Homo sapiens: one gene and its partner. The protein of the gene in region 2 purifies or fractionates together with the protein of the main gene of each other region. This does not show direct contact. Each region holds a gene or a part of one and is shown on either strand. Other genes may lie near its edges.

Region 1 (3,656 bases), on a different chromosome or scaffold from region 2:
GTTTTAGATGGTACTGACTCTACCCCTATCTTAGTCTGTTTCGTGTTGCTATAACAGTATACCAGAGACTAGGTAATTTATAAAGAACAGACTGAGAATATAAATATTTGAAGGCTGGGAAGTCCAAGATCAAGGTATGGCAGGTTTAGTGTCTGCTAAGGGCCCCATCTCTGCTGCAAAATGGTGCCTCCAATGCAGCATCCTCTGGAGGCCAGGAACACTGTACCTTACATGGCAGAAGAGCAGAGGAGGGTGAACCCGCTCCCACCAGGCCTTTTTATGGTGGTACTAATCCATTCAAGAGAGTGGATCCCTCATGACCTAAACATCTCCCATTAGGCCCAACTCCCAACGTTGTTGCATTGGGAATTAAGTTTTAACATGATTCTCAGAGGGGACAAAAACACTCAAACCATAGCAACCCCCAACTCCAAGGCTGGGCATGTGACTCAGTCACGGCCAATCAACTGTGCCTTATCTTATCCTGCATGCCTCAGTTATGAGCCAATAAATTCCCTTCTTAAGTCATTTGGAATTGGAGCTCCTGTTCCTTAAAACAAACAACACACACACACACACACACACACACACACACACACACACACACACACACCCCTGACTGGTATGGCTTGTTATCACTAAAATGTAAGTCTGAATTTGCAAAAAGCCAACTTCTCTTAACCAGACAGGAACAAAGTCATTCCAAGGGTCCACAAATGTTACCAGGCTTACCGTGAAGGCATCCATATAGGATCAGTATCTTGCGACAATAGGACATGTTTACAAGCTTTCCTTTTGTAGCTGCATAAATCTTTTATTCTCCTCCCTGGAGACAGGCACTCCATTGTTGAAATCCAGAGTGAAACATAAGCCTGGCGGTAAAACCTAAGACATAAAGCCTTGGCTCCAACAGCCTGCACTGACCCGTGTTTGTAGTACAGTTAGAGAAACTGACCTTGCCCCTTGCCTCCAAAGCTACCTGTATTCTGAATGCTCATGGATGCAACAGACATCTGCTGGAAGTTCCCTCATGATTCCTGCAGAACCAAAGGCCAAATCCAGGCCTCCAGGTAATGACACTACAATTACTTATATTGGATCCCAAGTTATCAACTGGTTCTTAAAATACTTTGTTGTTGTCGAGGCATTTCTATCATTGAAACATTTCTCATATTAGAAAGTGAACTGTTAATACCAACTTGGTATTTTTCATTTTCACACATATTTACTTTGGAGCAATCACCAGTAAGGAGCCAGATTGCTATCACGACTGAGGCTAGACTAGGCTGTCTTTGAATAACACTTAAAAATACATTAAAAGGAAAACCCAACTAATAACCTTGTTATTCTCTTCCATACCATTGAAGAACAGCCTGGATTTTTAAGAAAGAAGGAATATCTTCCCTTTCTTTATGTAATTCAGGGTTTCTTTAAACTTACTTATTCTAAGTTAACTGCACCAGCCAAACGTAAATGTGTCAGCTTTTCAGGAAATACCTATCAAAGTTCCACAACATTCAACTTACTGTGCAATAAGTTTCTGGTCCCTTGATGGTGGGGACCACATCTCTGTATTCTCCACACCATCTATCAGAGTATTTGCATATATCAAAATATTGCAGTTCTATCCAGCTTAAGGGCTTTCCTAAGGATTTCTGAATAACCTTTTCTGTGATAGAGGGAAATGATGTAACAAAAGAACATTGTCAGAAAGCTTCAGTTGGATTTACATTTTTTTTTTTTTAAGATGGTTAGGGAGCCAGGTGTGGTAGCTCATGCCTGTAATCCCAACACTTTGGAATTTGGAATTTAGGGAGACGCTATATTACCTATATTTAAAACAAATTTAAAAAGAAATTAGCCAGGCATGGTGGCACACACCTCTGGTCCCAGCTACTTGGGAGGCTGAAGTGGGAGGATTGCTTGTGCTGGGAATGTCAAGGCTACAGTGAGCTATGATTGCACCACTGCACTCCAGCCTGGGCAACAGAGCAAGATGACCCTGTCTCAAAAAAAAAAAAAAAAAAAAAAAAAGTGGATGGTGATAGTTGAATATTCCTTATATTGTTCTCTACTTTGTATGTCTGAACTATTTCATAATGGAAGGAGGGAGAGGAAGTTGATTGACTGGTTTAAACACACCTGGATTAACTCCACCGTTATAATAGCTGCGCAACCTTGGGCTTCATTTTCTCAAGCTAAAAATGGGGATAGGTAGCTCTCTCTACCCACAGAAATATTGTGAAGGCAAGATAAGGTAAGCAAATGCCTTGGCAGGAATCCAGTAGCTGTCAGCTTGAAGACAGAGGGGACATCTCACTCTATCCAGCCTGCTATCAGTACTCTAGTAGGAAAACCCACCAACCAGCACCTAGAACATAGCTGCAGAGCAACAAACAAGGTAAGGACAAAACTGAGCTGATTGGTCACTATAAACCTTCTTTTTTGGGGACATTAAAATGCACTCCAAAGTAAAGCAACAGTTCCACATATGGTGGTGACTGTCTAAGAAACAAAGTTCAAGCCGGATGCGGTGGCTCACGCCTGTAATCCCAGCACTTTGGGAGGCCAAGGCGGGCAGATCACGAGGTCAGGAGATCAAGACCATCCTGGCTAACACGGTGAAACCCCGTCTCTACTAAAAATACTTAGCCGGGCGCGGTGGCAGGTGCCTGTAGTCCCAGCTACTCGGGAGGCTGAGGCAGGAGAATGGCGTGAACCCAGGAGGTGGAGCTTGCAGTGAGCCGAGATAGTGCCACTGCAGTCCCGCCTGGGTGAAACTGCAAGACTCCGACTCAAAAAAAAAAAAAAAAGAAAAGAAACGAAGTTCAAATTTGCACTTTTAGGCTGAACCTCTAATGGACATTTCCTGAATTTGGCTGGAAGAAGTATGATGATCTTCCATTTCTGTCACTCTTGGCATTGCTGTGCATAAAAAAAAAAAAAAGCAAGTCTTCATTTTTCTTACAAGCCTTTGGCCGTACTACTCCACTACAGCTGCCATTAATCACAGCAAACTGGATTTGCACTAAGCAATCTGGGCTGCATGCCTTTCCCAAATCCTAGGCATTAATTTACAGAATGGTAAAAGCAAAAATAAAATCCCACTTTACATGTGATAAAATAGGGCAAATTCTGTTTCTCAGTCTTGTTCCTTGTTTTTCAGTGTCTGAAAGAGTTCCAGCACTAGGATTTATCCACTGTATTACATGTTACAACGTGATTTATATCTGAACACCTATGTGCAATTTCTCCTTGCTACCTCTTCTTAGCCTAAGATGCCACCAAAATTCATAAGACTCACCCATGCGGAAAAACTGATATAGTCTAAGTCTGAGTCGTCTTATGGTACAGTTAGCTCACTCTCTAGATAACTGTGGTAGGAGTTATTACGAAATTATTTTAGGCAGATAGAGAGGAAAAGGGGTCCTTGGGAAGTTTTCATTTTTTAAAGCATCTCTGGAAAAGTTTCTTGTAAAGCCCTGGCTCTTAGAGCCAGGCCAGCAACCTTTGATATGCAAATGCAGGCCATGTGGGCCATGCAAATGCCCCACCTGTGCCTGGTGACAGGGCAGCCTCCACATATCCCCACGTGTGTGGAACATCATGGCGCCCTGCATTTGCATACTAAAAAGCTAGGGTGTGAGGGCCAGCTT
Region 2 (3,656 bases):
CCTGATGTGAGAACGTGGATATTTTAGTTGAAGGTGCTGAATTCAGTTGCTATTTTCATTCTTCTCCATGACAGCTGCGGATCACAGCTGCTTCTAATCAGCCATCTCAGTCCCTATAGATTTCTATAAACTAAAATTTTTGAAAAATGTCACTATTTTTGACTTTATGGGTATTATACATTAGTTTGGTACTTAGAAATCACAAGTTAGTATATAAATGAAAAATTTGAGTTTGTTAGACTTTGTCTTTTTGATGGCATAATTTTTAATTGAAGCTTTATCTGATTATAAAAAGGCTGTTAAATTGCTTAGCAATTGTGGAACTCACCCTGAGGCTAGATGATTGTATATACTTATCAGGGGAACCCACCCCCAGTATTTCAACATAGGTTCTATTTTCCCTAAGTGTCGGCTGGTCTGAGAAATAAACAGAAAGAGTACAAAGAGAGGAATTTTACAGCTGGGCCGCCGGGGGTGATACCACATTATCGGTAGGTCCATAATGCCCCCTGAGCTACAAAACCAGCAAGTTTTTATTAGGGATTTCAAAAGGGGAGGGGGTGTACAAACAGGGAGTAGGTCACAAAGATCACATGCTTCAAAGGGCAATAAAGATCACAAGGCAAAGGGCAAAGTAAAGATCACAAGGCAAAGGGCAAAATTAGAATGACTGATGAGGGTCTGTGTTCGGCTGTGCACGTATTGTCTTGATAAACATCTTAAACAACAGAAAACAGGGTTCGAGAGCAGAGAACCGGTCTGACCTCAAATTTACCAGAGCGGGATCTTTTCCCCACCCTAATAAGCCAGAGGGTAATGCAGGAGAACAGGGCGTAATTTCAGTCCTTATCTCAACTGCATGAGACAGACACTTCCAGAGCAGCTGTTTATAGACGTCCCCCCAGGAATGCATTCCCTCCCCAGGGTATTAATTATTAATATTCCTTGCTGGGAAAATAATTCAGCGATATCTCTCCTGCTTTCACGTCCTTTTATAGGCTCTCTGCAAGAAGAAAAATATGGCTCTATTGTGCCTGACCCCGCAGGCAGTCAGACCTTTGGTTGTGTTCCCTTGTTCCTTAAAATTGCTGTTATTCTGTTCGTTTTCAAGGTGCTCTGATTTCATATTGTTCAAACACACATGTTTTACAGTCAATTTGTACAATAGTGGTCCTGAGGTGACCTACATTCTCAGCTTATGAAGATAACAGGATTAAGAGATTAAAGGCAGGCATAAGAAATTATAAGAGTATTAATTTTGGGAACTGATAAATGACCATGAAATCTTCACAATTTGTGTTCCTCTGCCATGGCTCCAGCCGGTCCCTCTGTTCGGGGTCCCTGACTTCCCACAACATATACTAATATTTTTGCTGCTTCTTATGTGCTGCCCCAGAGTGAGAGTCACTTTGCTTTTAGTCATTGTCAGTCCTGATGTGCACTTCCCTCTTGGATAATTTTTGTCCACAGAATTTTTTCTTTCCATGTAGAATGATTTCATTGGCCTTGAAAACTTGTTCTGGTTCTGTATCTTCTATAATATAGTCTATTTCAGCCCTATGGGAAAGTGATAAATTGATCTCACCTTATATTTTACAACAAAAGCCATTTAATATTCTCAAACTAATCTTCAGTCATGGAAAAGAAGAAGATCCATTCAGTAGTCACTGTGATTCAACAATTGGTATAAGTGCTTAACTTTCCCTTTATCACATCTCTGGTTAAAGTTTCATGTTCTCTGCCCATGTGTTCATCTCACAAATTAAATGTTGCTGTAGCTTTGACTAAGCTAGGTTGCAAGTTTCTTAAAAACAGGAGTCATAATACCAATTCCATGTATTCTGCAATGCTAAGTACAGTCTTCTGAGTGTTAAATAAATATTGTGCATTCAGATATAGAGATATAAAGACTTTATTTTAGTGATAGAAGGTAGTTTTAAATTTTATACATGATAGTAACACTAACTCTGTATCTGTAGTTTCAAGTATCTTGAAGGTGGTCACCTTTTTATTTTATGGGAATACCTGAGACTGGGTAATTAATAAAGAATAGAGGTTTATTTGGCTCATGGTTCTGTAGGCTGTGCAAGAAACATGGCATCAGGGTCTGCTTCTGGTGAGGACCTCAAGCTGCTTCCAGTCCTGCAGAAGGGGAAGGGGAGCTGGTATGTGCTGAGATCACATGGTGAAACTGAAAGCAAGAGAGAGATGGTAGGGAGGTGCCAGGCTCTTTTTAAACAACCAGCTCTTGAGGGAACTAACAACTCACTCACACTTCTCTCCCTTCCCCCAGGGCATTAATCTATTCATAAAGATATACGTCCATGACCCAACCACCTCCCACTAGGGGATCAAATTTCAACATGAGGTCTGGAGGGTTTGGTGTCCAAACTACAGGACTCCTTTAAGAGAGTGAAAGGATAAATCACAGAGTAAGAGAAAATGTCTAATATGTGTATCTTTCATTTTATAAATATATAAAGATTTCTTACATGTAATTGAGAAAACAATAACCCAGGAGGAAAATGAGCAAAAGACTTGAACTGGCTTTCAAAATGGAGGATATCCAAATGGACAATAGTTATAGGAATAGATGCTCAATTTCATAAGTACTCAGTAAAATTCAAATTAAAATTGTAATGAGATGCCAATGGAATGTCTCAGATTCAATTATAGAATTTCTGTTGTGTTCTTTTTTATAGTTTTTTATTTCTCTGCTAAGATTTTTTTTCTAATATTCACCAGGAGTACATTTTCCATTTTGTCCATTGGCGTAGCAACAATAGCTGCTTTAAAACCCTTGTGTGCTACTTCCAGTATCTTGGGTCATTTTGGGGTCAGTCATCATTAATTGTCCTTTTTCTTGAATATGAGTCATACTTTCCAGTTTGTTCTTGTCTAGTAATATTGGAGTGTGTTTTGGACATTGTACATGATATGATGTAGGAGCTGTGGATTCTGTTATATTCCTCTGAAGAGACCTTTAAAAGACTTTTTTTTTCTTAAATCAAGCAATTAACTTGACTGATCTGAAACTCTAAATTCTGTCTCCCTGTGGTGAGCAGCTGAATTGCCTGTCCAGTTTTTTTTTAAGCTTAACTGGGCTGCCTAGAAGATTCCAGTATGTATTCTATACATGCTATTCAGAGTCAGCCAGACATTTGGAGAGAGCTGATAGATTGGTTCCTCTCTTACTTGCTTCTTTCTGTGATTTCTCGGTATGCTTTCCAGATGCAGCATTCACCCCAAACACTGTGCTCTGGTTCTTTAAGCCAGGAAGACTGTAAATTTTCAGCATTTTTATTACCTTTTGAGGCACCAGCTGGGGCCTGCCATAAGGCTAAAACTTATGGAAAAAACAAAACCAAACTGGAAACTTATGAACTTATGTAGTATTTTTTCCTTTTTTCAAGTGTAGCACACCCTTCTCCCCTATTTTTGACTGCTTTTGGTCTGTCTATACTGCCTTTAGATAGCTGGGTTTTGTTTGTTTTGTTTTCGTTCAGAGTTTATAGTTACATGTGAAAGTGTTGGTTTGATAGTAGCTGCTTGACCATCACTGGAAGCAGAATTTAAGCTTTAAATTTAAATGAAGATACTTTGCTCTAATATTTTTACTTTCTTTGTACCTTAGGTACCCTCTTAGTGGCATGGGT

The links.
Region 1: the proteins of AGPS (region 2) and CSRP2 fractionate together in Homo sapiens (co-fractionation; one large-scale study listed by BioGRID). This does not show direct contact.

Annotation. Positions count from the first base shown.
Region 1 is NC_000012.12:76,868,967-76,872,622, forward strand, and holds part of CSRP2 (cysteine and glycine-rich protein 2), read right to left. Parts: intron 886-3,656; exon of another isoform or gene 733-885; intron 1-732.
Region 2 is NC_000002.12:177,430,693-177,434,348, forward strand, and holds part of AGPS (alkyldihydroxyacetonephosphate synthase, peroxisomal precursor), read left to right. Parts: intron 1-3,634; coding exon 3,635-3,656. UniProt on the Homo sapiens protein: Catalyzes the exchange of the acyl chain in acyl-dihydroxyacetonephosphate (acyl-DHAP) for a long chain fatty alcohol, yielding the first ether linked intermediate, i.e. alkyl-dihydroxyacetonephosphate (alkyl-DHAP), in the pathway of ether lipid biosynthesis.